4 separate regions of the Homo sapiens genome follow, and regions 2, 3 and 4 are each linked to region 1. The links come from fine-mapping of genetic effects on gene expression. A gene starts in region 1. Each other region holds a variant in brackets. All regions are shown on one strand. Distances are from middle to middle. Region 1 holds the start of TMEM175 (transmembrane protein 175). Region 2 holds the start of LOC124900645 (a long non-coding RNA gene). Region 3 holds the start of LOC107986246 (a long non-coding RNA gene). Region 4 overlaps LOC124900163 (chloride intracellular channel protein 6-like).

What was found.
Region 2: its variant is fine-mapped to the expression of TMEM175 in whole blood (TOPMed, PIP above 0.99).
Region 3: its variant is fine-mapped to the expression of TMEM175 in whole blood (INTERVAL, PIP 0.96).
Region 4: its variant is fine-mapped to the expression of TMEM175 in whole blood (TOPMed, PIP above 0.99).

What each region holds. Positions count from the first base shown.
Region 1 is chr4:928,203-936,308 of GRCh38, reverse strand. TMEM175 (transmembrane protein 175) reads right to left here and starts at 3,849. Exons shown (of 11, transcript NM_032326.4): 1 at 3,769-3,849. It overlaps GAK (cyclin G associated kinase), which reads left to right and starts at 3,993. Exons shown (of 28, transcript NM_005255.4): 1 at 3,993-4,266. The coding sequence starts at 4,122. RefSeq lists an enhancer at 3,408-3,727 and a silencer at 3,888-4,207.
Region 2 is chr4:963,910-972,015 of GRCh38, reverse strand. DGKQ (diacylglycerol kinase theta) reads left to right here. Exons shown (of 23, transcript NM_001347.4): 2 at 944-1,023; 3 at 3,106-3,205; 4 at 3,452-3,537; 5 at 3,609-3,734; 6 at 3,989-4,136; 7 at 4,214-4,288; 8 at 4,367-4,467; 9 at 4,655-4,887; 10 at 4,962-5,052; 11 at 5,214-5,268; 12 at 5,489-5,550; 13 at 5,938-6,088; 14 at 6,487-6,525; 15 at 6,725-6,840. LOC124900645 (a long non-coding RNA gene) reads right to left here and starts at 3,133. Exons shown (of 2, transcript XR_007057989.1): 1 at 3,075-3,133; 2 at 2,075-2,671. RefSeq lists enhancers at 1,780-2,298, 2,646-3,359, 3,360-4,073. The variant C/T (reference allele first, on the strand shown) is at 4,529.
Region 3 is chr4:733,056-741,139 of GRCh38, reverse strand. PCGF3 (polycomb group ring finger 3) reads right to left here. Exons shown (of 11, transcript NM_006315.7): 4 at 7,351-7,468; 5 at 6,113-6,209; 6 at 3,619-3,674. The coding sequence starts at 7,459. It overlaps LOC107986246 (a long non-coding RNA gene), which reads right to left and starts at 1,713. Exons shown (of 2, transcript XR_001741543.2): 1 at 1,196-1,713; 2 at 1-433. The variant T/A (reference allele first, on the strand shown) is at 3,804.
Region 4 is chr4:772,680-780,785 of GRCh38, reverse strand. The region is part of intron 1 of LOC124900163 (chloride intracellular channel protein 6-like); the gene reads left to right. All of the region lies in intron 1 of PCGF3-AS1 (PCGF3 antisense RNA 1), which reads left to right. Among named protein-coding and RNA genes, the nearest start is that of PCGF3-AS1, 5.1 kb to the left of the region's middle. The variant C/T (reference allele first, on the strand shown) is at 4,218.

The DNA of each region.
Region 1 (8,106 bases):
TTGTGACAGAGTCTCAGCTCACTGCAATCTCCACCTCCCGGGTTCAAGCAATTCTCTTGCCTCAGGCTCCCAAGTAGCCGGAACTACAGGCGTGCACAGGCATGCACTGCTACACCCAGCTAATTTTTGTATTTTTAGTAGAGATGGGGTTTCACCATGTTGGCCAGGGTGGTCTTAAACTTCCGACCTCAAGTGATCTGCCCACCTCAGCCTGCCAAAGTGAGCTACCGTGCCCAGCCAACTTTTCTAGTTTCATAAGGTGATTGCTGAGGTCACTGATTTGAGACTTAACATTTAATACTGTTTTAGCTGCATCCCACCAGTTTTAAATGCTGCATTTTCATTTTCATTCTGTTCAAAATACTTTCTAATTTCCTTTTTGATTTCTTCTTTGACCCATGAGTTATTTAAAAGTGAGTTGAAAAAATATACAAAAAACAAAAGTGAGTTATTCAGTTTCCAAATATTGAAAGGATTTTCCAATCTGTTACTGATTTCTACTTTAATATTCAATATCATTCTGGTCAGATAACATACTTGTTTAATAGAACAGAATATGATCAGGCTTAATGTTTTAATGCACTTGAAAAATTGTGTATTCTGCTGTTATTGTGGGGAGTGTTCCATAAACATTCATTAGGTCAAGTTGGCTGACAGTCATGTTCAAGTCGCCTATATCCTCAGTGATTTTCTGGGTATCTATCCTATCGTTTATTGAGAAAGAATATTCTCCAACTACAATTGTGATTTTTCTCTCTCCTTGCAGCTATTAGTTTATGCTTTGTGTATTTTAGAGCTTTGTTATTAGGTGCATAAATGTTTAGGATTATCAAGTCTTTTCGATGAATTCACCCCTTCTTCATTACAAAATGATCCTCTTAATCTCTTGCAATACTCTTTGCTATGAAATTTAGGAAATCAGTTATAGGGATTAAGACTATAACTTCAGTTTTGGATATATACATGTTTATACATGTAGCAGTATCTAAGAACAAACATCTGAGAGTTCAGATGAGATATGGAGATAGATATTTGGGTTAAGATGGTGTTACTATAGCATCTACTTCAATGCCAATAAATAAAGGTGCTCCAGAAATATTCGTAAGATAAGTAGTCTGACTCTGGTTTCCAAAGTGATTACAAGGTTTAGAAATGTCCAGCTGATCCCAGGTCATGCCAGTATAAGTTCATGGCCTCCAGATGAGTGCTTAAACGCTCTCATGCTTTCCAGTGAGTTATTTGCTAGGTTTCTCATAATAGCTATTTTAGATCTTTTTGACACTGCTTAAATCTTGGGTTTCCTACTTCCCCTCTCACTTTCAGTTGATGTTTTTCTTTCCTCATTCACAATGAAAACAGAAGTCATTAGAGAATTCCTTCACCTTCATTCCAATAAATACATAAGGTCACCTACAACTGCAGCCCATTTTTCTTCCTGAGTGTTTTTCCTATGTCCAAAGCAAATATCTCTACCTATGCTCTTGATGTCATTCCCCTCCTATGTTCTAAGAGATAGAAGATATCTCATTAAGATAGAATTATCTTATTATTCCTCTTTTTTCTGTACCAGCAAACCTTCTCTCCCTTCCATCCGCTTTAGGCTGCTCAAGAATCTCTCATCTTAAAACATCTCAATACTACATCACCCTTGTAGCTCCCTGGAGCTAAGGGTGCCGAATTTGTTGGCCTGAAGTTGTTCATATTCTCTTCCACAGACAAACATTTTGAGTTATCTCCACTTGCCATCTCTACCTCATCATCTCTTCATCCCTCTACGGTAATATGTAGCTTCCACCTCATTACTCCAATGAAGCTATTCTTGGTGAGGTCACCAATGATCCCTTGTGAATAAATCCAACACATATCTTCCATTTCTTTTTCTACTTGACTTTTAAGTGGCATTCGACACTCTTAGCTGCACTCTCTGCCCCGAACATCCTCGTTCCTTGGCTCTGTTACGACACTCTCTTGGTTTTCTTCCTCCTTCACTGACTGCTCTTTCTCCACAAACTGTCTATTCTCTGAAGATTCTAACCTCTTTATGTCTAGTACACCATCTCTGTTGGTCCTCTCTTCAGCTCCTAGAGCCAACTGCCACCTCTATGCTGAGGATGCCCAGATATCTGTCTCTAGCAGGGATTCTTTCCTGAGCTCTCTATCCTTCTATTCCACAGTCGACCAGACAAACGCACTGGCTGGAAAAGCCATGACTTGCGTTGAATTGCAGTTGTATCACTTGTTGGCCCTGGCCGAATAATGGCATTGTTGAGCATATTTTCTCATCCCAAAATAAAGGGGGTTAATTATACTGTGCTTTCTTCACAAAGATGTTTTCACTACAATGAACTATTACAGAAAAGGGTGTTGTAAGCAATAAATCAGTGCCTAAACTAAGCTATTGCTACTGTTATTTTTGTTATATATATTTTTAAAGATGTCATTTGGCTTCATGCAATACTTCATTCCATAACATAGATAAGTGTTCCAACGAGCTGAGGCTATTATCTTTTAATGATAAAGATAACAGATGTTAGCTTCTGGGACGGCTAAGAGGCTGATGTGAGCTTTAGAATCCATTTTTGAGTTGGAGAACAAATAACTCTGTTGAAGGGGTTGCAACCTTAAATGACTATAGGAACCAGGCAGGTAACATACATGAGCCCATCTGGTCAGGCAAATGACTGTGTCTTACCTCAAGGGACCACTCTAGGTAATTGGTAACACACATCATTTTGGGTCCAATATTGACAGGTTTGATTTTTCCACAGAAGCTGGAAAACTAGGTTTTTAACATTTAGGCCTTTCAATTATTATTATTATTATTATTTATTTTTTGAGGCGGAGTCTCAGGCTAGGGTACAGTGGCGCCCGCCTCCCGGGTTCAAGCGATTCTCCTGCCTCAGCCTCCCGAGTAGCTGGGATTACAGGCACCCGCCACCACGCTCGGCTAATTTTTGTATTTTTAGTAGAGACGGGGTTTCACCATGTTGACCAGGCTGGTCTGGAACTCCTGACCTCAGGTGATCCGCCTGCCTCGGCCTCCCAAAGCACTGGGATTACAGGTGTAAGCCACCGCGCCTGGCATCAGTCTTTAAATGATAGCAACTAATTCACCTCCTGCTACCCACTCCCAACCCCCAAATACTGTGTGGGCCAAAAACTAAAAATGCATTGTCTGTGAGCCATTTCCTTATTATCCTATAAGGAAAGTCACCATTTCATCTCCAAATAGTTGGGCATTACGAACCCTTCCAAGTGGTTCATGAGGATTTGCTTTTGCCTTGGAAAATGTCAGGGTGAGAACGAACCTTGAGGGTCACAGGGCAGTCTCTGCAGTGTTGTGGTTGCCCAGGACGAAGGTTTTTCTAGCCCACGGCTCCCACTACTGGTCACTGCCCCAGGCCAGACCCTGGCCCTCTCCTCGGAAGACAGAGCAATGCAGCAGCGTTTCCCCTGCAAACTGCCTGCCTGGCTGCTGGGAGGGGGCTGCCAACCTTACTCACTAAGCGTCACAGGAAACTCCGACCTCCATGAGACGAAAACCAAGTATTTACTGAAAGCTTAACGCACGCTAACTCCTTGCTCCTTAGCCAACTGAGAGAAAAATTCGCGAACCCATTCGCAAACGCGGCGCTAACAGCAAACGGGAGGCTGACTCCACCCAGAGGATGGCGAAGCGCTTAAACCGGAGACACCTGAGAAGGAGCCTCCCACAAAACAGACCATGTGGGGAACGGTACCGGGAGCTGGACTGGGGCGCTGAACTACCTGGGCGGGAATCGCCTCGGCGACTGTTCCGCGCGCCTCCGCTTGAGTCAGCCCGGCCGGGAGCTTGACAGCCGGAAGTTCATCGCAAGCCCGGCGACGCCGCGCACGCGCTGTCTCCGTCAGACCTCCGCGCCTGCGCGCGCAGCCAGGAAGTGAGGCCGCGGCGGAGGGGACGGGGCTAGGCCGGGTCGCCGCCTGACGCGACGCGTCCTCACGGGCGCCTACGTCACGGCGTCGAGGCGGAAGATGGTGCACCTCCGGGCCGGCGGTTGCTGAGCTGACCCGGACGGCGAGGGAGCGGGAGCCCGAGCCCGACCACTCCGGCTGCCGCGGGGTGCGGCGCAGCCACCGCCATGTCGCTGCTGCAGTCGGCGCTCGACTTCTTGGCGGGTCCAGGCTCCCTGGGCGGTGCTTCCGGCCGCGACCAGAGTGACTTCGTGGGGCAGACGGTGGAACTGGGCGAGCTGCGGCTGCGGGTGCGGCGGGTCCTGGCCGAAGGTGAGGCCCCGGGTCGGCAGCGCGGGTGCGGCCGCGGAGTGTTGTCTCCGGGACGCTGGGGGCAGCGTCAGCCCGGAGTGGAAGGGCGTGGGTTAGGGCTGGGGAGGGTCCCAGCGGGATCGTGGGTCAGGGTCGGCCAGGGGAGGGTCTCTGCCGAGGGCGTGGGTCAGGGCCAGGCGAAGGTCATAGCGCGGGCGTAGGTGAGTGCCTGCTGGCGGTGATTGCGGAGGGCGAGGCTGGGACCGGGTCGGGGTACTTTCTTGTCATAAGAGTAGGGTCAAGTCGGAGCAAGGCCTGGGGCTTGGGGAACCCCCTCAGGGTGGGTGGGGGAAGATGTTACGGTGAGGTGGGGGATGGTGGCAGGCAGGGAGCTTGGGTGGGGACCCACAGCGGAGACTGAGGGACGGTGCCTAGAAGGCCGACAGCTGGAGTCAGGAGGTGAGCGGTGCAGGAGGTGGGTTTAAGCCTTGGCCTTTTGCCGGACATCTGGGGTTATTGAGCAGGCAGGGACAGGACTGGACTTTGGAGGTTAGGGCTGGTTCTTCTACAGTCCAGGGAACTTGAGAGTTGGTGGGTGCACACGTGTTGCAGGTAGTTGCGGTTGTAGCCTGGGGGGTGGGGGGGTTGGCCGAGGGTAGACTGGGCTGTGTCTCGTGATCCCCCTTCGTCTTTCAACACCTCAGTGTTTCTCTTCCCGGTGAACATCTACTCGTGTGATTCCGTGTGTAGTACAGGAAGCAGAGCCAGTGGTTGTGACCTATATAGAACTTGCAGAGTGGACAGGTCACTCGGCTTAAGTCCTCTTGAGTCAGTCTTGAGTCAGTTTTGTCTCTGCATGCTATTTCTAGCTCCCTGGATGTCCTCTCCGTTCACACGGAATCGATCACCAGTGCCAGTGGGTCCCATTCTCTCTTGTGGATTTTCCTTACATTTTTTGTCCAGTGGTGCCTGGAGGTGTGTCATATTTCACTGGCTGTGAAGTTTATGGGCTAAACACAGTTGACTTGGGTGCGGAAGCGTAACTCTATTCTGCTGTATTGGCACAGGGAGAGGGAGTGAAGCGACACAAAAGCCCTCACCCTCACCAGCTCCCTGGTACCTCTCAGGGCTGGAGGGTTAGCCTGTCCAGGTGCCTGCTCTGTGACCAGACAGGAGACTATCCCAGAATTCTGATTATCACAAAAGGCCTGCGGAGACATTTTGACTGTAGCATTATCACACACTTTGTCTCCATTGTGGTCAAAACCAAACAGATTTTGGGTATGATTTGGTCAGAAAGTCTAAGCTCTTCTTTCAGAAGTGGGGGCTGAAGTGTGATATTCTTTCACATCAGTTGGAAGATTTCTCTCAGATCAAATCATTTATTCTGAAAATACTAGGTGGTTATCTTCATTCTTTAAGAAGTTTATTGTGGACAGGACTTGCTTTCTGGAACTTCAGACTTGTGCTCAAGGGGTGGAGAGACAGAGGCAGCACAGGGACAGATCCTTAGGGGTGGTACAGACAGTGTGAGCTTTGGGAAGGGGCCAAGCAGAAGATGGCACGGATCTTGGTGGGAGGGATGGAGAATGCACCCTCACTGGGGCCCGGAGAGGAAGATTCGTATAAAGAAAGAAGCTTGTGGGTCACTTAGCACCCAGGAAGAAGAACAAGGAAATGTGGGCAGCTGCTGAGGTTGTGCAAAAGAACTTGTTTCCCTTTGCTATCTAGGCAAGTCAGGAGATAAAAATAACCAATGCAATTAGGAGCTGTAGATTTCCTCCTTGTAAACTTAATAGGTGGCCTGCAGCCTCCTAAGTACTTTGAAGCCTCTTTGAACTGAAACAGAGTGTGAAAGCTGAATTAAGTATTTTATATAAACATACTTAATTAAGTTTTGTCTGAACAGCAACCTTAGAACATAGGCTATGGGAGTTTAGGCTGTCTTGTGTAAACATGGTGATGGCTGGTAATCTGAACCCTTGAGTACAGATGTTTACACTTCCAGAATTTTTCAGGTTTCAGAATGGTCATTGCAGCATATAACCTGTATATCGTGGGATACTCCCAGAAGACTTGGGAAAGTATTCTGTAATTGAATACATTAATATTTCTGTAATTAAATGAATAAATATTCTCACTGTGGGATAATTAAAGTCTGTAATTAACCCCATATCAGTTCATGTCAGGTTTTATCCCAAATGAGGTTATTATGATAGACCAGGATTTGCTGTCAAGTGAGTTAGGAAAAAATGGTTTTCATAGCTTTTAGGAATTTGGACTTGTGGTGTGAATGGGTTTTTAGGTAGAACTGTGGAACCAGATAGCTTTCTAATTTCTTCAAATTTGTTCTGTCATCTTCCTTTTTTTTTTTTTAATTTAAGAGACGAGGTCTTGCTGTTACTCAGGATGGATTTGAACTGGGCTCTGGATCTTCCTGCCTCGGCCTCCCGAGTAGCTGGGCTTACAGGCATGTGCTGCTGCACCTAGCTAGTCTTCACTTTTTTAAAAGGCAGATTATCAGGAGCACCAACCATGTCAGAGATGCCCAGGGCAGGTGTATGCTGTGTGTTCTTTGTTTTGGGTTCTGCGTGCCGTTGCTTCTGAAGTGGAGCCTGTGGTGCCCTGACTGCAGGGAAATCCACCTTCCCTGTGTGGCTGACTTGAACTCGGGGTTACTGCTAGTGAGATAAATTGAGGCAGAAAAGAAAACGATGCCGCACAGCCGTCGTATGGTTTAAGCGTAACCCGCCTCGTGCGTTTGGTTGGGTGTTGTATGTAATTTGAGCCAGCCCGCAGCCCTTGTGTGCCATGCGCAGTGTTAGCTGAGTGGCTGGGCCCGCTCAGGAGCCTTGGGGGTCAAGCTCTGGCCTAAGGAATGGGGAGGGCACAGCCTACTCCCACCCCCAGGGCCACTTGTGTGTGGTCCTGACTCTCCACCCTTCTTCCTCCTTGACATGGCTTTTGGAGGCTTCCTCCCTTCACTTACTTAGAATGTTCTGGGCCGGGCGCAGTGGCTCACGCCTGTGATCCCAGCACTTTGGGAGGCCGAGGCGGGTGGATTACCTGAGATCGGGAGTTCGAGATCAGCCTGGGCAACACGGGGAAACCCGTCTCTACTAAAAATACAAAATTAGCCGGGTGTGGTGACACATGCCTGTAGTCCCAGCTACTCAGGAGGCTGAGGCAGGAGAATCGCTTGAACCTGGGAGGTGGAGGATGCGGTGAGCCAAGATCACGCCATTGCACTCCAGCCTGGGCAACAAGAGTAAATCTCCGTCTCACCAAAAAAAAAAGAAAAGAAAAAAGAATGTTCTGGACTGGGTGAGGGCACTGTGAATATTTGGTACTGACTGACAGTTGCAGAATCATGTGGTACAAGCAAGACTCTTGGTTGCAAGTTTCAGAAACCCTCCCAGGTGGGCTCAGTGGCAGGAAGGCCCCATGTCTCCAAGGTGGGCTCAGTGGCAGGGGAGGCCGCATGCTGGCCCCATGTGTCCTCCGCAGGGTACACTTGAGATCATTTTCTTTTATTGAAAAGAGTCTGGCTCTGTCGCCCATGTTGAGTGCAGTGGAGCGATCACGACTCACTGCAGCCTTGAACTCCTGGGCCTACGTGATCCCCCTGGCCTAGGCCTCCCAGAGTGCTGGGACGACAGGCATGAGATAATGTGCCCAGCCTTAGACTGATCTTAAAAGTAGACCGGGCCGGGCACGACGGCTCACGCCTGTAATCCCAGCACTTTGGGAGGCCGAGGTGGGCAGATCACCCGAAGTCAGGAGTTCGAAACCAGCCTGACCAACATGGCAAAACCCCATCTCTACTGAAAATACAAAAACTAGCTGGGCATGGTGGCGCGT
Region 2 (8,106 bases), 36 kb before region 1:
CTTCTCTCGGTGGACCCTGGCCTGCTTCCAGAGCTTTTCTCTTAAGCTGCCAGGAGAAGCTTCTCCCGGTCCCATCTGGAGACTGGGGTGGCTAGGGCTGCAGCAGGTGAAGGGCGGCACCAGCGGGGCCTTCTGGAAGAGCTCCCTGTCCCAGCTGGACTGCCTGGGGCTCCGTGGCACAACCTTCACCCGGGGCTGTCTTGGCAGTTGTGTCACTGGGTGCCCTGCCCACTCCCAGCCCCCGCAGCCTTTGCCCCAGCCCAGGGTTCCTGCCCTCCCTTCTGCCCCGGCCCCACCCTCCTGTCTGTTTTACTGCTGGGGTGTGGCGCTTGCTCCTCTTATGCCCTCCTGAGCACCCCGCCGGCTCAGGTGCTCCCTGGGTCCTATGCACACAGCCAGAGCTCCTTGGGAGGCTTGGGGCTGTCCACTCCCCAGCGGCTCCTGCCTCCCAGAGCCCTCACCTGCCTTGGGTGGCTCTCGGTCTCAGGCACGGTGCACAGCACGTAGCAGGGACAATTAGGGGTATGCGTAGTTTCGGGGGAGTGAGACACAGATGTCCTTGGTAAAGCCAATCTGCCGAAGGCCGAGAAGCCCCTGCCACCTGGCGAACCTGGTGAGCCCAGGGCTGCCCCTTGAGAGGCCCAACTGCAGAGGCAGGAGGAGTGCTGGGCCTACGTGCGAAGGGGAGGGACTGCTCTCTGGATGAGAGGATACACTCATTGTCCTCCAGGATGGTCAGGACCACCCAGGTTCTTGCTCCTGGGCTCCTGGGCTGCAGGCTCTCTCCAATGAGTGGGCAGGGTGGTGGGGGAACTCGAGGACCACAGGGCCCCTGGTGCAGCATGGTGGGTATGGCAGTCATTGCCCTGGGGCCTCTAACTTCCTGGGTAGGACAGCCATTGGGTAGGACAGGGGCCAACTCACACAGTGCTCATTCCCACAGTCTGCAATTTCATGTCTCATGAGAAGTGCCTGAAGCACGTGAGGATCCCGTGCACGAGTGTGGCACCCAGCCTGGTCCGGGTGAGTGTGGGGCTGGGTGTTGCACCTGCAAGAGGCTGGGGGATGTGTCAGCTCTCGTAGGGTCGAGGCACTGAAAACCTTCATGTCAGACGTTAGTGATACCTGCAGTTGAAAGGCAAAGGGCAGATACTGCTCGGGATTAAAAGGCTGAGCACCCTGCATGGATCTGCAGGGAATGATGGTGATAAAAGCCAGTCCCCGAGGTCGCAAATAGCAAGATCCTGTCCATAGAATGTGCTCAAAATGACGAAACTAAAGGGAGCACAGATGTAGAGAGGTTTCCAGGCGGAGAAGTGGGCGTGGCTGTGACATGCAGCGTGAGGGCTCCTGGGGGGGATGGAGATTTCGGCATCTGGCGTGACCTCAGTTTGCAAGATCACACACTTAGGGGAGCTGACAAAGGCTTCAGGGGGTCTGTTCAGTTTCCTCACAGCTATGTGTGAACCCACAAGCATCTCAAGGAAGCTTGAATAAAAAGCAAAGGCAGGAAGCCTGGGTGCCTGAGGGTGTCTTGGCCACCACCCTCCCTCTAAGGGCTCTGGGTGGGGCAGGGAGGTGACTGGCCCAGGTCACTGCAGGGCACAGGGGACTTCCCTTCTCTGGTGACAGTGGTGACAGCAGGGACATGTAGGAAGGGCCAGGCTTATTCCTCCCTCAGCTGTCAGCGTCGCCGTCTTCAGACTGAGGCCCCCCAAGTCCGCATTCCCTGATGCGTTCAGGCTGCAGGTGGGGCGCAGGCCGCGAGGCAGGCCCGGGTGTGCAGCAGGACGGGAAGCCAGGCCAGCAGGCACACCTGCCACTGGCGGGCATCCGGCTGCGCCGTCCCCTCTAATGTCTGACGCCCTGTTCCTAATGATGCAGTTCCCCGGGTGTGAGCAGGAGGCCTTAGGCCGGTGGTCCTGGTGGTGGCCGACACCCTGGTGATTCCACACTGGCTTGGGCGGCCCCTCGTCATGTGGACGGCCCGAGGCTGCCGCTTTTTAAAATTGATTTTAATGTCTTCTATACTTTGCTAAATTGGGAAAATATAAGTATGTATTTCAACTGTATGCATGATAGGAAATTTAGAAGATGTATTTAACGGCCGGGCGCTGTGGCTCACGCCCGTAATCCCAGCACTTTGGGAGGCCGAGGCAGGTAGATCATGAGGTCAGGAGATCGAGACCATCCTGGCTAACACAGTGAAACCCCTTCTTTACTAAACAAAATATAAAAATTAGCCGGGTGTGGTGGCGGGCGCCTGTAGTCCCAGCTACTCGGGAGGCTGAGGCAGGAGAATGGTGTGAACCCAGGAGGCGGAGCTTGCAGTGAGCCGAGATCACGCCACTGCACTCCAGCCTGGGCGACAGAGCGAGACTCCATCTCAAAAAAAAAAAAAAAGGAGATATATTTAACAAAATAAAAGTCACCCGCCATCCTGGCATGCTCACAGCTGCTATTCTGGAACACGGTCTTTCTGTGTATGCTTTTATCGGGTGTGGTTTAAGTTTGGGGACAAGGGCGAGAGTCAGGAGTGAAGACTTGGTCCTTCTCCTTCCCTTCTCGTGGAAAAGCAACAGCCCAGCTTTCTCCAACACAGAAACATTGGTCCACACTCGTTATGGCCAGATTATCTCCCAGAGGGCAGTCCCTGTGTGCTGGGATCTTCCTGGCTCGGAGGAGACAGATGCCAGGCCGTCGACAGAGCCTCGCCTGCCCCAAGGAGGGAAGGGGTGGCAGGCGGGCCTCGCTCCCCTGCGCTAGGCAGGGCTGCTGGGGGAGGCCACAGCCTCCTCCCTGCTTTTGACCAGCCAGGCTGTCCCCAGGACCCGGGGGTGTGGTTGTTCCTGGGGCCTCGCTCCCCTGCGCTAGGCAGGGCTGCTGGAGGAGGCCACAGCCTCCTCCCTGCTTTTGACCAGCCAGGCTGTCCCCAGGACCTGGGGGTGTGGTTGTTCCTGGGGCCTCCAGCTAGCACAGCTGGCTCAGCCTGGGCAGTTCTCAGCAGGAGCGTGAGCTGCAGAGTTGCGCAGGTGAAGAGCGAGGAGGGGTGGCGGGCAGCCTGTTGCCCTTACCAAGGGTGCTGAGGTGAGGCTGCCCCACCAGGTTCCTGTAGCCCACTGCTTCGGCCCCCGGGGGCTCCACAAGCGCAAGTTCTGTGCTGTCTGCCGCAAGGTCCTGGAGGCACCGGCGCTCCACTGCGAAGGTACCTGGAGCCTGCCTGGCTCCCCACCCAGTGTCCTGGTCTCTGCTGCCCAGGGTGGCCCAGCCCACCCCTGCTGTGCAGCTTGTCAGGGGTGATGGGGGAGGCCAAGGGCTGGCCGCCTGGCAGGCCACAGGACACTTAAAGGATGCAGGGTGCTAGGTGGTGGGGATGGGGCAGACCCAAGCACCGGCAGAGGCAGGGGTCCTCCGGGGGCGGCAGACACCTCTAACCCTGCCTGCCCCCCAGTGTGTGAGCTGCACCTCCACCCAGACTGTGTGCCCTTCGCCTGCAGTGACTGCCGCCAGTGCCACCAGGATGGGCACCAGGATCACGTGAGTGTACCGGCCCCAGGGAGCCCTGGGGGGTGGGGCGGGCCCAGCTGCTGACTGCCCCCGCTCTGCAGGACACCCATCACCACCACTGGCGGGAGGGGAACCTGCCCTCGGGAGCGCGCTGCGAGGTCTGCAGGAAGACGTGCGGCTCCTCTGACGTGCTGGCCGGCGTGCGCTGCGAGTGGTGCGGGGTCCAGGTGGGCGCTGGGAAGTCGAGGGGGTGGGGGTGGGGCAGGAGAGGTGCGGGGTTGGGTGGGTGCTGGGAGGTGGAGGAGTTGGCGGGGCGGGGCAGGAGAGGCGCGGGTTCCAGGTGGGTGCTCGGGGGCGGGCGGCAGGAAGGACACGGGGTCCAGGTGGGTCTGCGTCGTGTGGGGTCTTTCCCTGGACCTGGCGCACCTGGTGCCCCCGCACCCTGGCTCCAACCCCCCAGCTCAGGCCCTTCTCCCCCCAGGCGCACTCCCTCTGCTCCGCGGCGCTGGCTCCCGAGTGTGGCTTCGGGCGTCTGCGCTCCCTGGTCCTGCCTCCCGCGTGCGTGCGCCTTCTGCCCGGCGGCTTCAGCAAGACGCAGAGCTTCCGCATCGTGGAGGCCGCGGAGCCGGGTGAGGTGCGGGCCGGCCGGGGCGCCCTGGGCTGGGGGCTGCGCACTGAATGAGGGGTCCGTGTGCCCGACCCGCAGGCGAGGGGGGCGACGGCGCCGACGGGAGCGCTGCCGTGGGTCCAGGCAGAGAGACACAGGCAACTCCGGAGTCCGGTAAGTGCCCGCCTCATTCCCCCCAACTCCACTGAGGTCCCCCGGGCGCCCGGGACTCACGGAGCTTACCCGGCCCAGGGAAGCAAACGCTGAAGATCTTTGATGGCGACGACGCGGTGAGAAGAAGCCAGTTCCGCCTCGTCACGGTGTCCCGCCTGGCCGGTGCCGAGGAGGTGCTGGTAAGGGGGAGGCTGGGGGAGGTCTGAGCCCCCTCCCAGGACCGCATGTCCCCGCACCTGG[C/T]GCACCTGACCTGGCTCCCCCAACCTGGCGCCCCTCACCCACCTGGCCTCCCCCTCCATGACCTGCCCCCCACTGAACCCCGCCTGACCCCCCACAACTTGGCCCCTCTAACCTGGTGCCCTGCAGGAGGCCGCACTGCGGGCCCACCACATCCCCGAGGACCCTGGCCACCTGGAGCTGTGCCGGCTGCCCCCTTCCTCTCAGGCCTGTGACGCCTGGGCTGGGGGCAAGGCTGGGAGTGCTGTGATCTCGGAGGAGGGCAGAAGCCCCGGGTCCGGCGAGGCCACGCCAGAGGCCTGGGTCATCCGGGCTCTGCCGCGGGCCCAGGAGGTCCTGAAGATCTACCCTGGCTGGCTCAAGTGAGACTGGGCCCGAGGCTCAGGGTCTGCTGGGCGGGGTGGGGGGAGCTCCAGCTCAGACTGTGTCCCCACAGGGTGGGCGTGGCCTACGTGTCCGTGCGAGTGACCCCGAAGAGCACGGCCCGCTCTGTGGTGCTGGAGGTCCTGCCGCTGCTCGGCCGCCAGGTGCGTACCCTGTGCCTGCTCCCCATGCCGGCCAGACTCGGTGGGGGGTCGCTGTCCCCAGGAGGCCAGGCCACCATCCCAGCCCAGGCGTGGCTGTCCCCGCGGGTGTCCTGAGGTGGTGGGGGCCTGCCCAGACCCGATGCCAAGCTCTACCCCAACAGGCCGAGAGTCCCGAGAGCTTCCAGCTGGTGGAGGTGGCGATGGGCTGCAGGCACGGTGAGTAGACAGCCCGTGCTGGGCGTGGCGGTCCCTGCACCTTTTGGGTTTGGACCTGCTGCCCAGGCTTTCCTGCAGGGTGGTGCCGGACATCAAGGCCGGGCTCTGCCCTCCTGACCAGCTCCACCCTGCATCCCCACGGGCCCTGGGGGCTCCGGGCAGCTGCTTCCAAGGTGGGCGAGGAGCCGGGTGCTGACGGCCTGTGCCCTCACCTCTGCAGTCCAGCGGACGATGCTGATGGACGAACAGCCCCTGCTGGACCGGCTACAGGACATCCGGCAGGTGAGTGGGTGTGGACGCCGGCCCCCAGGGAACCAGCAGCCCTCAGCCACAGCCTCTGCCCCACAGGGTGGGTGTGCCCCAGACGCCGAGTTCTCCTTGGCTAGGCAGCGGCTGTCCTGGCTGACAGGGCAGCGCCCTCGTCATGAGCTACTTGGTCCCTGCAGGGAGGCCTCGAGCTGCAGATCTCCCCGAGGTCCTCGAGGGGAACGGACAGGGGTTGTCCACAGCAAGGAAGCCTCTGTGGCCCCTTTCCTCGTTTTCCTGTTGACTTAATTCCTGGGAGTGTTCCTGATGCCCTGTTTTGCTGTTTTGCGGGTGAGGAGACAGAGGGCCTGGTGCGGTGGTGCCGTTCTCCCCGGCCCAGCATCCCCGCCCCTCTCCCTGCAGATGTCTGTGCGGCAGGTGAGCCAGACGCGGTTCTACGTGGCAGAGAGCAGGGATGTAGCCCCGCACGTCTCCCTGTTTGTTGGCGGCCTGCCTCCCGGCCTGTCTCCCGAGGAGTACAGCAGCCTGCTGCATGAGGCCGGGGCTACCAAAGGTGTGACCACTGTGGCTGGCCGTGGGCTGCTGGCACGGGGCAGGGTCGAGCGGCAGGCAGTGGGGCTGCAGTGCTGAGCCGGCTCCTGCCTCTCCTTGAGCCACCAAGGCCTGAGCTCCGGGTCCAGCCCACGTCTCTTCCTCCAAGAGGCTCTGGAGCCTCTCGCCCTCTGTGGCCGTTCCCTGCGGTGCTCAGCCTCTGCCTCTCCCTCTCCCTCTGGGGGGTCCTGTACCTCCAGGGAGCTGGGAGTCCTGCTCCTGGAGTGGGGCAGGGGTACTTCCTGGGGAGGCTGCCTTTGGGGTGAGATGTCACCCCTGGACAGGCGGAGGGGCTGTCCCTGGCCCCAGTGCTGTGTGTCCTTCGCCTCCCACCGCCCTGACCACAGCCTGCCTTTGCAGCCACCGTGGTGTCCGTGAGTCACATCTACTCCTCCCAAGGTGAGCTGCCCTGAGGGACGTGGTCACATGAGGCCCAGGGGTGTTCCTGGGGTGAAGTGGGACAGCCCTGGCCCTCACGTAGCACCTGACCTTTCCCTTGGGCAGCCCTGGGCTGGGGAAACGTCCTGGTTTGGTTCCTGCCCTGGCACCGTGGGGGCCATGGGACAGGCTCCCCCTGAGTCCTGGGCTCCTGCCGCAGGCGCGGTAGTGTTGGACGTTGCCTGCTTTGCGGAGGCCGAGCGGCTGTACATGCTGCTGAAGGACATGGCTGTGCGGGGCCGGCTGCTCACTGCCCTGGTGCTCCCCGACCTGCTGGTGAGTGTGCGGTCAAGCCGGCTCTTCACACACCCCAGGGGGTGGCCAGAGGGAGGTCGGGGTCTGCAGGTGCACAGGCCCCACAGCCAGACTCGCTGTTTTCATCTGGCATCACTTCCTTGAATTCACTGGGGGCTTGTAGGTGCCACCTTGTTTGTGCCTCACAACAGCAGGAAGGACTCTGTTGCCCGTTTTACAGCAAGGGGCCTGAGGTCAGAGGGTCAGCGCTCATCCGAGGCTGCCCAGTAGGTGATACCAGCTCCGTGGGGCACCGTGGGGTCAGGCCCAGCTTCCACGCTGCACCTGAGGCCTCCACCCAGTAGGGAGGCCCACAGGACGCAGCTCCTGGATGTGCCGGGCCCCGCTGCGGCTGCCTCGCCAAGGGCCAGAGCGTGTTTGTGACCAGCTGTCAGGATCCCAGGCATGGCCCTCCCGGTACAGCCTCAGCCTCACTCCCCCTGCCCGGGAGGCCTTAGGGCCTCTGCTCTCTGCCTGGAGCTCCCCAGGCCAGTCAGTGCAGCTCCCAAACTTTGAACGCTGCCCTTCAGACCCACAGTGCCCAGAAGAGGGGGCACCTGGCAACAGGGCAGGGCTGGGGGAAAGGGGGATCTGGAACATGGAGACAGGGCAGGGCCGGGGGGAACGGGGGTCTGGTCCGTGGAGACAGGGCAGGGCCGGGGGGAACGGGGTTCTGGCCCATGGAGGGGCTGGAGCCTGGGACTCCACGCTGCACACCGTGCCTTCACATTGGCCTCTCGTCCTCAGCCCATCTAGCCCCCAAAGGGTCCCATGAGGACCCCCCAGGTGTCCATGGCTGTTCTACCCCTGAACCTTGACCCTTGATCGTGACCCCAGTCCAGGCGAAGCAGAACTCGAGCAGAATGAGTTGTCTGTGGCTGGGACGGGAGATGCCTGTGGCTCCCTGCTATGCCTCCCTCCTGTGCCCCTACACCCGGCCTTGCCTGGCTCAGGACAGGGTGGCCATCCCCACTGTCCCGAGGATGCAGCCCCCACCCCAGCTCCACTCGCTCTGTGGGCAGAGCCAGGTTTGGGGCCGACACGCGCTTTCTCTCTCCCGTCAGCTGCCTGCCCTGGGGTGAGTGGTAAGTGGTGACCGCAGGCGGCTCTGCCTGCCAAGTGGGTCACGAAGCCCCGAGTGTGTCCTTGCCCCCAGCCACGGCCGGCCCCTGTGCCGCTGCCCACCCTGTGTCTGCACCCAGCCTGTGTGTCTCCTGTTGCCCAGCCTTCCCCGCTGTGGGGGCCCCA
Region 3 (8,084 bases), 200 kb after region 1:
GATATTGCTGGTGTTGAGTCAGTGACTCCATCGTCGGCTGTTTGCTCTCAGCATAGCTACAGTATGACGGATGAGAAAGTCGGTGCTTTGCCATCAACAATGACAGTTCAACAACAAAATAATCCAGAGTTCACTGCGGCTTCGAAGTGCAGCCCTGAAAGTCCCCTTTTCTCCTTTCCTCGTTCTGACGTCGTCATGAAAACGTCCCAATGCAGTGACGATGAGTTCCAGCCACGGTGCAGAGGGCTGCCCAAAGCCACCGGCAGGCAGGCAGCACACTCCTGGCACACACTCAGCTGCACCACGGACGGGCTTACGGGTGAAGGCGACCACAGCTGAGCCAGTGGGGCTGGTTCCAACCAGGCTACGCACCATGAAATTTCAATTCTTAAATTATCACATCATAAAATACGCTGCTTTTGATTTTTTCCAACTATTTAAAAATGTAAAGAAACATTCTTAGCTCATGGGATCCTCCTGCCTCGGCCTCCCACAGTGCTAGGGTTACAGGCATGAGACACTGTGTCCGGCCCCCACGTTTCTAAAGCAAGAGGTGACAGGCATGTTCAGGATCCATGGAAAGAGGACTGGTGAGTGCGTGAGCCCCACAGCCCTCACCAGGAACGGACAGGAGCCTGGCACACCAAAGACCATGACACGCCCACCGAGTGAAAGAGCCCAGAGTGGGCTGAGACTGAGAATGGACACTTTGATAAATGTTTTAAACATGTTGCCTCTACGAAGACAGGTTTCTAAAATAATTTATAAAAACAAAAAGAAACAACAAACCACTAAAAACCTAACCCCACCTCTGATCTAGCAGGGAACTCTCTTCCAGCAAGCCCCCACCATGTGGGGGTGCGGGGACAGCGTTGAGGGCCTGCCCGGAGTCCAGGTGGGAGGGGCAGGACCGTGTTGGCGTCTCCTCCAAAACAGACACCTGGACCCTCAAGGGCTGACACCTCGCCTCACCACTGCATCCTCGCAGCTAACGCGCGTTTCAGGAAGAGGCCTCTGGTCGGAGAAATGAGGTTTGCAATTGTCTGCACCACAGATAAAACTAAACAAATTGCAAGTAGCCTCCATCAAGAAAATAGGTGCACTGCTAATAGTTTTAAAGTTAGAATCCTCCTGCTAAAGAGCCACAAATGACTGAAAGCTTGAGAAACAACAAGAAAAAGAATATTGACTCAACGGAAAATATGGTGGCCAGAGACAGGAGCTGGTCAGGGAGGCGGCTCGGGGCCACCGTGCCCTGGGGGTGTCAATCTGGAGCACTCCGGAACCTCTTGCCTCTCGACTTCTTCAACGTAGAGTGGAGTTGGCAGCGTCCACACCGGACAAGAGCGTGCTGAGGTGGACGAGAACATACAACCTGCTCCAGGCTGGACGCACACTCCAACTAACACGTGGAGACGAGCGATGGAACGGAGGTGGCATGCAGATCTCAGTGCCACCCGGCTCAGCACATGGACGACACCTGCCCTGATGGATGCCCAGAAGCGGGCTTCCCAAAAACACGGGTGGAACGCACCCAGGTCCACTGCCGCAGGACAACCCAGGACAATGGGAAGGCAGAGGCAGGAACCAGAAGGAGGCCCGTGAGTCAGTGGTATTCTCTGGATCCTGATTGGAATAAACAAAAACAGGCTGGGTGTGGGGGCTCACACCTGTAATCCCAGCACTTTGGGAGGCCAAGGCAGGAGGACTGCTTGAGCCCAGGAGTTCAAGACCAGCCTGGGCAACACAGCAAAACCCTATCCCTACAAAAAATTAGCCAGGATGGAGGTGCTTGCCTGTAGTTCCAGCTACCTGGCAGGCTGAGGTGGGAGAATCACTGGAGCCCGGGAGGTTGAGGCTACAGTGAGCTGTGATAGCACCACTGAACTCCAGCCTGGGCAGCAGAGACCAGGTCTCAAAATAAATAAAGAAATAAACAACAACCAAAAAGCACCGCATTTATGAGACAACTAGAAATGTCAGCACTGAGTGGCTATTTGGTATTAAGGAATCTCTACTATTTTCCTAAACATTATCAAGGTATTGTGGTTATGAGCTTTAAGAAGAACCCTTATCTTTTGGGGATACGTACTGCAGCCTTTACAGATCAAAGGCCACGGGGTGAGGCTGAGGGAGCAGCAGGTGCAGCAAGGACGGCCACGCCTAGAAACTGCTGGCGGGGGGTGGTGGTCACAAAACTCGAGGTTCCTGCCCCGATCCCGCCCACTGCTAAGCGTTTGAAACGCTCCAGTGCACACTTTATTTATTTATTTATTTTTTTGAGACGGAGTCTTGCTCTGTCGCCCAGCCTGGAGTGCAGTGGCGCGATCTCAGCTCACTGCAACCTCTGCCTCCCGGGTTCAAGCGATTCTCCTGCCTCAGCCTGCTGAGTAGCTGGGATTACAGGCACCTGACACCACGCCCGACTAATTTTTTTTTTTTTTTTGTATTTTTGGTAGAGACAGGGTTTCACTATGTTGGTCTGGCTGGTCTCAAACTCTTGACCTGATGATCCACCCGCCTCGGCCTCCCAAAGTGCTGGGATTACAGGCGTGAGCCACTGCACCCGGCCACAAACGTTTCTTAAAGTGTCAGCACTGGCGGGGGTCACAAAACTTGGGGTCCCGCCCCGATCCCGCCCACTGCTACGCGTCTGAAACACTCGGTGCAAACGTTTCTTAAGGTGTCAGCATTTAACTCGAATGTATCCTTTGCCTTTTCTCAGGACTAAAAAACTTTCAGATATTAAAAGACTAATTGTTTCTATCTACGTTTACTCAGGAAATCTAAATTCTTCCTGCATGAATGAACTCTGTGAGTAGGGAAGAAGCCTCTAACAGTATGATTCTCTGGGTCACGCATTAAAGGCGAGATACGGTTTCTACGGATCTGGCATATTCAGCTGTGTTTTGAATTCCAACCCTCTTCTGAGATACAGTGAGAACCAGCCCAAGTGAATTCTCAGCTTCTCTATCTGCCTTTGAAAGGTCTGATGAGCAGAATACCAGGACAGCCCACCTGGCGCTGACCTGGCCCCTCCTTGGCCTCCTTGCCGGTCGCCAGCGGAGGGCCACCACCGTGAGAGTGTCGGGAGCTGGGGAGCTTTCAGCTGAGCGATCCCCAAGCAACCGATTTCCACTTTCAGGGTATTTGTACTACTTGGTATTTCTTTTAATTCTAAATGAAATTTGACTTTATGGTGAAGTTTTTCTAGAAACACCAGCTACCCGCTATGCCAACGTGCTGCTCCTCTGTTGTGGGGAAGCTGGCGCTGTGGGATGAGGGGAGGCAGGCCTGGGACAGGAGGTGGGGCCCAGGAAGAAGGCAGGGTCCTGGGAGGGGCAGGAGCTGCGTTGAGCCCTGGGGGTCCCATGTGCTAAACATGCGATCCATACTTGCTGAATGAATACACATAAGGGGTAAAAAGATGTCTACGCATCTTAGACGAAAGAAGAGACCAGCCAAGGAGATGAAGTTGGGCTGAGAGCAGGGATGAGAAGACGGTGATTCGGCCAAAAGGAAAGGGGCCTCCCATCCGAGAACCAAACTTCCAGGAGAGCAGGGGCTGCAGAGGCCAGGCTGGGACCTCAGGGATCAGCAAGACAGTCAGACACTCACCTTCTTGGAGGCCTGGTACCAATTTGTAAACAATATCTTGCATGGTTCTGTCATGACTGGCAAAAGAACAGAAAGGTGGAGTTAGCTGGAAATGTTAATTCTATAATTCTTGTACACTTTCCATTTAACAATATCAAAGTTCAGAATCACCAGTCTGGAGCTTTGTTGGAATTTTACTTCTAGTT[T/A]ACACATGAAAAAATGTGTCACCAAAAGCCATGTATGAGCTGAATTAACGCGTCATTTAACTTGGGCTCTGGCTGCTTCAAACATTTCAAATAATGACAGAGAAGGCTCTTCTGGGAACCCGTGCTTCTGTCTGCCGGACACCCCAGATTCCCCACGTCCCGTGCGCTCAGGGGACACCGTCCCTGCAGACACCCCAGGTTCCCCGCGTCCCGTGCGCTCAGGGGACACCGTCCCTGCAGACACCCCAGGTTCCCCGCGTCCCGTGCGCTCAGGGGACACCGTCCCTGCAGACACCCCAGGTTCCCCGCGTCCCGTGCGCTCAGGGGACACCGTCCCTGCAGACACCCCAGGTTCCCCGCGTCCCGTGCGCTCAGGGGACACCGTCCCTGCAGACACCCCAGGTTCCCCGCGTCCCGTGCGCTCAGGGGACACCGTCCCTGCAGACACCCCAGGTTCCCCGCGTCCCGTGCGCTCAGGGGACACCGCCCCTGCAGACACCCCAGGTTCCCCGCGACACTGTCCCTGCAGACACCCCAGGTTTCCCGCGTCCCGTGCGCTCAGGGGACACCGTCCCTGCGGACACCCCGGGTTCCCCGCGTCCCGTGCGCTCAGGGGACACCGTCCCTGCGGACACCCCGGGTTCCCTGCATCCTGTGCGCTCAGGAGACACCGTCCCTGTGGACACCACGGGTTCCCTGCATCCTGTGTGCTCAGGGGACACCGTCCCTGCGGACACCCCAGGTTCCCTGCATCCTGTGCGCTCAGGGGACACCGTCCCTGCGGACACCCCAGGTTCCCTGCATCCTATGCGCTCAGGGGACACCGTCCCTGCGGACACCCCGGGTTCCCTGCATCCTATGCGCTCAGGGGACACTGTCCCTGCCCCTCCCACCAAGTGCTTCCTGGGGTCTCCTGGTCTTTGTGGGATTTCCAATGAACAGAGGCTTTTCTAGAATGTTTCCAAATAATGTAAAGAAAAGTCTGTGAGGGCCGGGTGTGGTGGCTCACACCTGTAATCCTAGCATTTGGGGAGACTGAGGCGGGCAGATGACCTGAGATCAGGAGTTTGAAACCAGCCTGGCCAACATGGTGAAACCCTATCTCTACTAAAAATACAAAAATTAGCTGGGCGTGGTGACATGCGCCTGTAATTCCAGCTACTCGGGAGGCTGAGGCAGGAGAATCACTTGAACCCGGGAGGTGGAGGTTGCGGTGAGCTGAGATGGCGCCATTGCACTCCAGCCTGGCGACAGAGCAAGACTCCATCTCAAGAAAAATAAATAAAATTAAGAAAAATAATAATAATAAAAGGGAAAAACAAACACATCTGCCTTTCCTCCTTCAAAATGTGTCTTCAGAATTATCTCTACTACCCTCATGGTACGGGGAGCATTTCCCTTCCTTTGGAGCAACCCCCCAAATCTGAACGACCTCCCAAATCTGTGTGAGAACCACACGCTCCACCTGGCTGGCCCCTTGGCCTCCTGCTGACGTCCAGGCAAGAGTTGCCTTCTCCAGAAATGGTGGCTGGCCCAGGGGTGAGTCCAGGCTCGCTGTGACCCTGGGCAGAAGAGCACAGCGCAGGGAGAAAGACCTTGGCCATGTGTCAGGGGCAGCAGGGCCAGGGCCCCAGGACCATCTGCTCCATGGCAGAAAGGTGAAAGGGGTATCCAAGGGCCGGCTCACATCAAATTTAACTTCAGCAAATTCTGCGTAAAACTCATGAGATTCAACTTGGTCTTGAGGGCTCTCCAACAATTTAACTTGACTAAGTATTTTTTCTTTCTCTTTGAGACAGAGTCTCGCTCTGTCGCCAGGCTGGAGTGCAACGGCGCAATCTCCGCTTACTGCAACCTCGGCCTCCTGGGTTCAAGTGATTCTCCTGCCTCAGCCTCCTGAGTAGATGGGATTATAGGCATGCACCACCATACCCAGCTAATTTTGTACTTTTAGTAGAGATGGGGTTTCTCCACGTTGGTCAGGCTGGTCTCAAACTCCTGACCTCAGGTGATCTGCCTGTGTCGGCCTCCCAAAGTGCTGGGATTATAGGCATGAGCCCCTGCGCCCGGCCTACCTAAGTATTGATGGAAATGTATGTGCAGGCACAGCCTGGGCAGGCCTGGCAGGATGGCCTGGTGAGCGCTGGACCCAGGTTCTTCGTGTGCAGCTCCTGGGGTGCCCTTGGTCAGGAGAGGCTGCTGCCAAGGCAGGATGGGAGTACAGCGCTAATGGCCTGGGAAGGCCCACACACAGAGACGCCCAGGGGCACTCACCCCACGTACTGTGGCCTGGGAAGGCCCACACTCACCCGATGTACTGCAGGGGGTGGCTCTGGTGGATCACAATCCTGCAGGTGGGGCAGGTGTTGTTCTCCTCCAGGTACTTCACCAGGCAGCTCCTGCAGACTGTCATCAAAGCACAGGTGTGTTAGGAGAGCGTCTAGAGCCAGGGCGCCCACCCCATCGGCGTGCTCCACTGAACACGGGCGTCTCTGAGCTCGTTTCTGTGCAGATGCTCACTGCTGTCCTCCTTGTGGCTCTCAGCTTCTGAAAGGAAACATCTTGCCGTTCTGGTCTCAGGAGCAATGAGAAGGTTTTAATTGCCCCGTCAATGGGCTTCCTCAAAGAGGCAGGGTTAGGAATTAAGTGGGAAAAAAACTTAGAATGGGGAGATGATGCTCAAAGGTGACAGAGCTGTGGGTCATCAGAACATGGGCTAAAACAGATAATTTTACAATACTTTGTCCTAAAAGATGACAGTATCTTCTACGTACAACTAGATAAAATCAAATGAAAATAACCTAACATAAAATATGCTAACCAATATCTAAAAATACGATTAACGTTAAAGTCAAAATTCTATCAAATTGGCAAATATTTTATTTCCTAAAGTGAGAAATACACAAGCATCACTTGTATTATAAGCGTACACTTCATTTTAAAGATCCTGTTTAAACAAAATGCTCCCCAGCCATCAAGAGACGCACACAGCGGTCGTCCACACCAGCAGGGCCGCCAGCCATGGGGCCTCAGGTTAGCATAAGAGCCGAGCCTCAGCCTGATGGATGGCACCTGCCCGTCAGCGGTAGCCACACTTAGAAAAACACTCAGGTCCAGCCCCAGGTGTGAGTCCTCTAACACCAAAGCACAGACTCATCAGGTGTGAGGACGCACATCAGGTGTGAAGAACACACTGGAAGGTTCCCCTTTGAAGGATCTAAGGAACTCCTCTGGAGATTTGGAAACTGCCAGCAGTGAGCACTGTCACAGCGGCTACTGGCCTTGCTGCTCCGTGGGAGGAATGTGGGGTCTCTCCTGTGTTTCGCTCTCCTAAGCGAGGCCTCATCTGCTCTGACACCACCCACAGGACCTTTAGCGTGAAATGACTTTTCTGACTTATCTTCAAGATCGTCTCTGCCCCTGGTCCTGGTTCCTGCTTTTGTCGGGCTTGAGCTAAAAGCGTGTGGTAACACAAAAGCCAAGGTTCTGAAGAGCACAGAGCTGGGAAGGGCGCGCCCTCCCTGGGTGGCGCGGGCAGGGCACGTACAGGTGTGCAGACACTCGGTCACCGTGGTGGCGTCGATGAGGTACCCGCTGCACAGGCGGCAGGTGATGTGGGCGTTGATGTCCCACAGCTTGATCTTCCTGGTCAACATCTTTGGCTTCTACAAGAGAAAACGCGATTAATTAACACCTGAAACTCTTCCATGCCTTTCATCCTTGGCTGAGCTCTGACAGCCGCCCCCAGGGAGGACAGTGCAGGCCCTGAGGCCTGGGTGGCAGGAGCCTCTTGGGCTCACGGGGTCCCAGGCTCCCATGTGCAGGGCACGGTCAGCAATCCAGTGTCTGCGTGCACTGGGACAAGCCCACCTTTTCAAAAGCCCCCGGCTCCCCCGCACTGGCTTCTCTCTGTGCCCAACACCCCCTCCTCTCCTCCTGCAGTGAGGACTGAGGAGGGTCCATAAAGCTGCAGAGAGGCAGGATCCCCGAGCTGTCTGTCTTCTGTGAAAGCGGAAGGAGCAGGAGGAGCCCGCGAAGGCAGAGCTGCCGGGTGGGATGAGGATGGGCAGGCTCTGGGCACCTGGACCCTCTGCGGCTCACAGCGCGACCCTTGGGCCCAGTTTAGAGTCTGGGCTGTATGCTCACACCCCTTCCTCCCCATTCACTTGTGGGGCCGGCGCGGCTTCCACGGTGTCTCCTGAGGCTGTGTCTCCCAGAGCCTGAGGCAGCACGGGGCAGGGGCGGAGGCAGCACGGGGCAGGGGCGGAGGCAGCACGCGGC
Region 4 (8,106 bases), 160 kb after region 1:
GGCCCCCGTGGGTGCTTGGTTGGAACGATTAAAGGAGAATAACAGTTTAGCACGATTATTTCACACAGTTGTTCAAAGAGATGGCTTTGAATTCCAGCTTACATGGCGTCTTCAACAAAAAGTAATTGTTTAGAGAAGTGACAAGATGAAGGAGGACTCTGAGTCCTAGTCTCCCTCCTCGAGTCCCTGTGTGAGCAGAGGTAAACAATGAAAACTCACCAACCAGGAGAAATTCACCTAGGACTGGCGCAGAAGGTATACACCATGAGCCTGGAAATGATTTAAAAAACAACACAGGCTGGGCGCGGTGGCTCACACCTATAATCCCAGCACTTTGGGAGGCAGAGGCGGGCGGATCACTTGAGGTTTGCGAGTTGGAAACCAGTCTGACCAACGTGGAGAAACCCCGTCTTTACTAAAAATACAAAATTAGCCAGGTGTGGTGGCGCATGTCTGTAATCCCAGCTACTGGGGAAGCTGAGGCAGGAGAATCCCTTGAACCTGAGAGATGGAGGTTGATGTGAGCTGAGATCACACAATTGCAGTCCAGCCTGGGCAGCAAGAGTGAAACTCCATCTCAAAAAAACAAAAAAAACAACCCACAACTGTGGGCCAAAGGGACACAGCGACAAGGGGTCCCAATGGGCGAGGCTGGAATAACTTGAATAGCAGAATAAAGTAGCATTGGATTATAATGCACAGGGCTGAAGAAATATCGATGAGTCTTTGCTGATGTAATAAGTGACTGAATGAGCTGGGCAGAGTGGGACCTGTAGTTCAGCTACTCAGAGGCTGAGGTGGGAGCATCAGTTGAGCCCAGGAGTCAAGGCCTAGTAATATCCCATTTCCAAAATAAAAGACTGAATTAATAAATAGATGGGAGAGAGGAGACAATTGACCATGCAGGAGGAGTCCAAATATTTGTTCTTTGAGGCAGGATCTTCCTCTGTCATTCAGAAGGCTGGAGTGCAATGGTGCGCTGTTGCCTTGCTGCAGCCTGGACCTCCTGGGCTCAGGCAGTTGTCCCACCTCAGCCTCCCAAGTAGCTGGGACCAGAGGCATGCACATCCAGCCGAGTCCAAATAGTGTATGCAGATATGCCCTCACAGAGGTGACCTGAACTTTCTGAGTTGTGAGTGAGCTTCACCTGGGGACCTCCTTTTAGGTAGCAGGGAAAAAGAGGAGGGTGAGCCACACCCAGGCACCTCCTTCCAGAGAGCATGTGCCTCAGCCTCCAGAGTAGCTGGGATTGCAGACATGTGCCACCAGCCCGACTAATTTTTGTATTTTTAGTCGATACGGGGGGGTCTCACTATGTTGCCCAGGCTGGTCTTGAACTCCTGGGTTCAGGTGATCTTCCCACTTCAGCCTCCCAAAGTGCTGGGATTACAGGTGAGATAAAACTTCCTTATTCACAGACTACATGATTGTCTATATAGAGAACACTCATCTAAAGCAACAGCAATGATTGCCACAAAGACCCTCGTAGAGCCAGTAAGTGAGTTTGGAATGTTCACCAGTAACACATACAAATTAATCTTAGGGCTGCGTGCAGTGGCTCATGCCTGTAATCCCAGCACTTTGGGAGGCTGAGGCCGAGGCTGGTGGATGGCCTAAGGTCAGGAGTTTGAGACCAGCTGACCAACATGGTGAAACCCTGTGTCTACTAAAAATAGGAAAACTATCCAGGCATGGTGGCGGGCACTGTAATCCCAGCTACTCAGGAGGCTGAGGCAGGAGAATCGCTTGAATCCGGGAAGCAGAGGCTGCAGTGAGCCGAGATCGCACCATTGCACTCCAGCCTGAGCAACAAGAGTGGAACTCTGTCTCAAAAAAAATAAAAGACCCGGTGTGGTGGCTCATGCCTGTAATCCCAACGCTCTTTGGGAGGCTGAGGCAGGCGTATCACCAGGTCAGGAGTTGGAGATCAGCCTGACCAACATGGTGAAACCCTGTCTCTACTAAAAATACAAAAATTAGCCGGGTGTGGTGGCACACACCTGTAATCGCAGCTACTCAGGAGGCTGAGACAGGAGAATTGCTTGAACCTGGGAGGCAGAGGTTGCAGTGAGCTGAGATCATGCCACATTTGAACCCGTGAGGCAGACGTTGCAGTGAGCCGAGATCATGTCACTGCACTCCAGCCTGGGCAACAGAGCCAGACTGTCTCAAAAAAAAAAAAAAAATCTTACTTCTATAGACAATAAAACATTGGAAACTGAAGTTAAAAACACAGTAGCTCCTGAGAGAGAGAGAGAGGTATAAATCTAACAAGACAAAACAGGATCTGTATGCTAAAAAGACTATGTATGTGGAGAGACGGCACACAGCACGCTCATAGACTGGAAGACTGAACATAAGATGCCAGTCTCAGAAGGATCTGTGAAATTAACAAAATTCCAAAACATTGCAGTAGGACTCTTTTTAGATTTAGAAAAGATGATTTTAAAATGTATACAGAATGGTGAAGGAGCTAGCTAAAACAGTAAAAAGGATAGATAAAACAATGTTTTAAAAAGAACAAAAAAGTTAGATGAATCACATTACACAGTTTTAACAGACTTTAAAGCCACAAAAATCAAGACTGTCGTATTGGCAAAGAACAGACAGATGGGTCAGTGATCAGAGAGTCTAGAAACAGACCCACATAAATAGGGCCATTTGATCTTTGACAGCAGTGCAAACAAAAGCAACCCTGTGGAGAAAGGATTGTCCATTCAACAGAGCAGTGGGGCAGTTGGTCATCCATATGGTAGAAATGGAACCTTGGCCTAAACCTCACATTGTACACAATTAACTCCAATCATATGTAAACGTAAAACAAAACTATAAAATGTTTGGAAGAAAACAGAAAAATACCTTTGTACCTGATGACATTTGGTAGAGTTCTTAGACATGATCCCAAAGGCATAATCCACAGAAGAATCCATAAAAGAAAAATTTGTAAATTGGACTTTATCAAAATTAAAAACTTACTTTTTTGAGATAGGGTCATGCTGTGTTGTCCAGGCTGGAGTGTGGTGGTAAGTCATAGTTCACTGCAGCCTCGACCTCCCGGGCTCAAGCCATCTTCCTTCCTCAGCCTCCTGAGTAGCTGGGACTAGAGGTGCAAGCCACTATTCCTGGTTTTAAAAATTTTTTCCAGAGTCTGAGTCTTGCTGTATTGCCCAGGCTGGTCTCAAATTCCTAGCCTTAAGTGATCCTTCCACCTTCGGCCCCAAAGTAGTTGAGATTACAGGCATGAGCCACCGTGCCTGACCTAAAAACGTTTGAACTACCAAAGACAGTGTGAAAAGAATGAAAAGATGAGGAGAAAATATTCACAAATCACCTGTCAACTAAGGACCTGTATTTGGAATACACAGAGAACTCTTAAAACTCAACAGTAAGAAAACAGTCCAACTAAAAAGTGGAAAAGACCTGATCAGACATGCACCAGCAATGACACAGCATTGACTGTTGGGCACAGGAGAAGAGGCTTGACACCACCAGCCACCAGGAAATGCAGATTCAGCCACCACGCAGGACACGAGGCACCTGCACCACAGCCGCAGTGCAAGAGAATGCTGGTGGTGCCCCAAGCTGCCAGGGTGTGGACCTGCTGGAAATGGAAGACGGCATGGTGGTTTCCTATAAAGTTCAATGTACACAGCCACATGACCCAGCAATCCCACTGTTGGGTATTTAGAGAATGAAAAACTTAAGTCCACATAAAAACTGTACGTAAATGTTTACTGATGCCTTATTCATAATCATCAAAAGCTGAAATTCAAATGCCTTTCATTGGGTGAACTGGTAAACTGTGGTATATCTATGCAGTGAAATACTCCTCTGCAGTGACAATGGGGAGAGACTGACACATTGGGCACCATGGGGGTGGGAAGAGGTGAAGGAAGGTTGGGGGAAGGCGCCGTGGTCAGGTGTGGCACTAAGGAGATTTGGGGGTGGAGCCATTCTGTGTGTGGACTGTGGTGGTGGTCGCGTGACTGTACATGTGTTAAAGCTTCAAACAAAAAAGTTAAAAATTTTAGTTTAAAATATTAAAACATTTTTAAAAATGGACACGTATTCCTGAATTTTTTTTTTTTTGAGATGGAGTTTTGCTCTTCTTGTCCAGGCTAGAGTGCAGTGGCGCCATCTCGGCTCACCACAACCTCTGCCTCCCGGGTTCAAGCAATTCTCCTGCCTCCTGAGTAGCTGGGATTACAGGCATGTGC[C/T]ACCATGCCTGGCTAATTTTCTATTTTTTTTAATAGAGACGGGGTTTCTCCATGTTGGTCAAGCTGGTCTCGAACTCCTGACCTCAGGTAATCCACCTGCCTCAGCCTCCCAAAGTGTTGGGATTACAGGTGTGAGCCACTGCCCCCGGCATTCCTGATTTTTAATAAGCTGTAACAGAAGATAATTTCTCTATTTGGTAAATGGTATTTGTCAAAACCCTGCAGCAATCATGCTTAAGTCAAGATATTTAAAGTATTCCCATTAAAGTCAGACAAGCACAGTTCTCCTTGCTATCACTGTGAGTGTTTTCCAGACATCCCAGCAGGGTGAGAGAACTGAAAAAGAGGGAAGGAGATGAATATTGGAGACAGGGTTTAGTAGTTTGTTGATGATACAATCATCTGCATGTAAATCCAAGAAAATCCCCTGAGGAACCCTGAGGACCAGCCGAGGAGTTCAGTCCGTGCCAGATCCAGTGGGTTTCTCTACTCCACAATAACCCATCGGAGCATGAGCCACAACCCTCCACCTCCATATGAAAGAATCACAAAAGCTGGAAGAGAAGTGTGTAAGGACCGCCTGAGGAAGATGCTAAAAGAGGGTGAGTTGGCAGACATGCCACATCGTGGGTGAAGGATGTCAGCTGCCCCACAAAGTAAACTGTACATTCATTGCAATCCTAGTTAAATTCTGATGAGATTAAATGACACAGGATAAGCTGCTTCTGGAGCTGATCTAACAGAAGAAAAGCCAACATTAAAAAAAAGGCTGGGTGAGGTGGCTCACGCCTGTAATCCCAACACTTTGGGAGGCTGAAGCAGGCGGATCATTTGTGTTGAGGAATGTCATTTGTGGTCAGCCTGGCCAGCATGGTGAAACCCATCTCTACTAAAAATACAAAAATTAGGTGGGTGTGGTGGTGGGTGCCTGTAATCCCAGCTACTTGGGAAGCTGAGACAGGAGAATTGCTTAGGCCTGGGAGGTGGAGGTTGGTGGTGAGCTGAGATTGCTCCACTGCATTCCAGCCTGGGTGACAGAATGGTACTCTCTCTTTCACACACACACAGACACACACAAAATAAAGAAAAAGGGCTGGCGTGGAGGCTCCTGCCATAATCCCAGCACTTTGGGAAACCGAGGTGGGCAGATTGCTTGAGTTCAGTTCGAGACGAGCCTGGGCAACATGGCAAAACCCCATCTCTACAAAAATAAAAAATTAGCTGGGTGTGGTGGTGCCTGTAGTCCCAGCTACTCTGGAGGGTGAGGTGGGAGTATGGCTTGAGGCCAGGAGCCCGAGGTTACAGTGAGCCATGATTGCACCACTGCACTCTGGCCTGGGTGACAGAGTGAGGCCCTGTCTCCAAAAAAAGAAAAAAAACCCCACACCATAAAGGGGGTCCTACTGTGTCCGGAATTGGTGGGTTCTTGGTCTCACTGACTTCAAGAATGAAGCCGAGGGCCCTCGTAGTGAGTGTTACAGCTCTTAAAGGTGGCGTGTCTGGAGTTTGTTCCTTCTGATGTTCGGATGTGTTTGGAGTTTCTTCCTTCTGGTGGGTCTGTGGTCTCGCTGGCTCAGGAGTGAAGCTGCAGACCTTCGTGGTGAGTGTTACGGCTCTTAAGGTGGTGCGTCTGGAGTTGTTCATTCTTCCCACTGGGTTCGTGGTCTCGATGGCTCAGGAGTGAAGCTGTGGACTTTCGCGGTGAGTGTTACGGCTCTTAAGGTGCTGTGTCTGGAGTTGTTCATTCTTCCCACTGGGTTCATGGTCTCGATGGCTCAGGAGTGAAGCTGCAGACCTTCGTGGTGAGTGTTACGGCTCTTAAGGTGGCGCGTCTGGAGTTGTTCATTCTTCCCACTGGGTCCGTGGTCTCGATGGCTCAGGAGTGAAGCTGCAGACCTTCGTGGTGAGTCTTAACAGCTCTTAAGGTTTCGCGTCTGGAGTTATTCATTCTTCCCACTGCGTCTGTGGTCTCGATGGCTCAGGAGTGAAGCTGCAGACCTTCACGATGAGTGTTACAGCTTTTAAGGCGGCGCGTCTGGAGTTGTTCATTCTTCCCACTGGGTTCGTGGTCTCGATGGCTTCAGGAGTGAAGCTGCAGACCTTTGCGGTGTTACAGCTCATAAAGGCAGTGTGGACCCAAAGAGTGAGCAGCAGCAAGATTTATTGCAAAGAGCAAAAGAACAAAGCTTCCACAGTGTGGAAGGGGACAGGACCAGGTTGCCACTGCTGGCTCGGGCAGCCTGCTTTTATTCTCTTATCTGGCCCCACCCACATCCTGCTGATTGGTCCATTTTACAGAGAGCTGATTGGTCCATTTTACAGAGAGCTGATTGGTCCGTTTTTGACAGGGTGCTGATTGGTGCTTTTACAATTCCTGAGCTAGACACAAAAGATCTCTACGTCCCCACCAGGGTAGCTAGATACAGAGTGTCGATTGGTGCATTCACAAACCCTGAGCTAGACACAGCGTGCTGATTGGTGTGTTTACAAACCTTGAGCTAGATACAGAGTGCCGATTGGTGTATTTACAATCCCTTAGCTAGACATAAAGCTTCTCCCAAGTCCCCACCAGACTCAGGAGCCCAGCTGGCTTCACCCAGTGGATCCTGCGCTGGGGCTGCAGGTGGAGCTGCCTGCCAGTCTTGTGCTGTGCGCCTGCACTCCTCAGCCCTTGGGTGGTCGATGGGACTGGGTGCCGTGGAGCACGGGGCAGTGCTCGTCGGGGAGGCTGGGGCCACATAGGAGCCCATGGAAGGGGTGGGAGGCTCAGGCGTGGTGGGCTGCAGGTCCCGAGCCCTGCCCTGCCCTGCAGGGAGGCAGCTAAGGCCCAGCGAGAAATTGAGCACAGCAGCTGCTGGCCCAGGTGCTAAGCCCCTCACTGCCCGGGGCCAGCAGAGCCGGTCGGCTGGCCGCTCTGAGTGCAGGGCCTGCCGAGCCCACGCCCACCCGGAACTCTTGCTGGCCTGCAAGCCTGCCCACATCCCTGGTTCCCACCCGCGTCTGTCTCTCCATCCACACCTCCCTGCAAGCTGAGGGAGCCGGCTCTGGCCTTGGCCAGCCCAGAAAGGGGCTCCCACAGTGCAGCGGCGGGCTGAAGGGCTCCTCAAGGGCAGCCAGAGTGGGTGCCAAGGCCAAGGAGGTGCCGAGAGCAAGCGAGGGCTGAGAGGGCTGCCAGCACACTGTCACCTCTCACTACCAGACCCGAGCAGAGCTGTGGACAACACAGTATGGGAATTAAGCAGGTGAGATGACCAGAGTCCTCACTGGCACTAGAAGATGGCAGCCCAGGAGAAAGCTACCAGCCAGAGCGAGGCCTGCCAGAGATAGCCACATCTCCTCTCAGAGAATGGGGGTGATGAGGCCCTGCAGGCCAATCTGCCCTGTGCTGTGGGGCAGAGGAAGCTGTGGGACTGGACAACTCCAACATTCACAGTTGTGGCACCAGCTGCAGGTGAGAAATGTGAGGAGGGACCCTGCCCCCTCAACCTCTGAGGGGCCCTGGCAGACTGGGGGCTGTCGCCACCTGAGGGTTCCCAGCCTTCCTACAAGGCAGTGTGCATGGTGATGACTGAAGTCTCGGGGTAATCTCCCAGCAAGAGGTCAGGTCCTGGTTGTGCGTCCCAGGGTGTCAGTGAAATTGGCTGCTCCCCTGACCCAGGGCACCTTCATGCGTCTTCACAGCAGGACTACTGTGACCAAGGCCAGACCTTTCATCTTTCAAAAGACTTTGACTAAAAATGCTTTAAAAAAGCAACCTTCGGCTGGACGCGCTGGCTCACGCCTGTAATCCCAGCACTTTGGGAGGCCGAGGCGGGCGGATCACCAGAGGTTGGGAGTTAGAAACCAGCCCAGCCAACGTGGTGAAACCCCGTCTCTACTAAAAACAAAA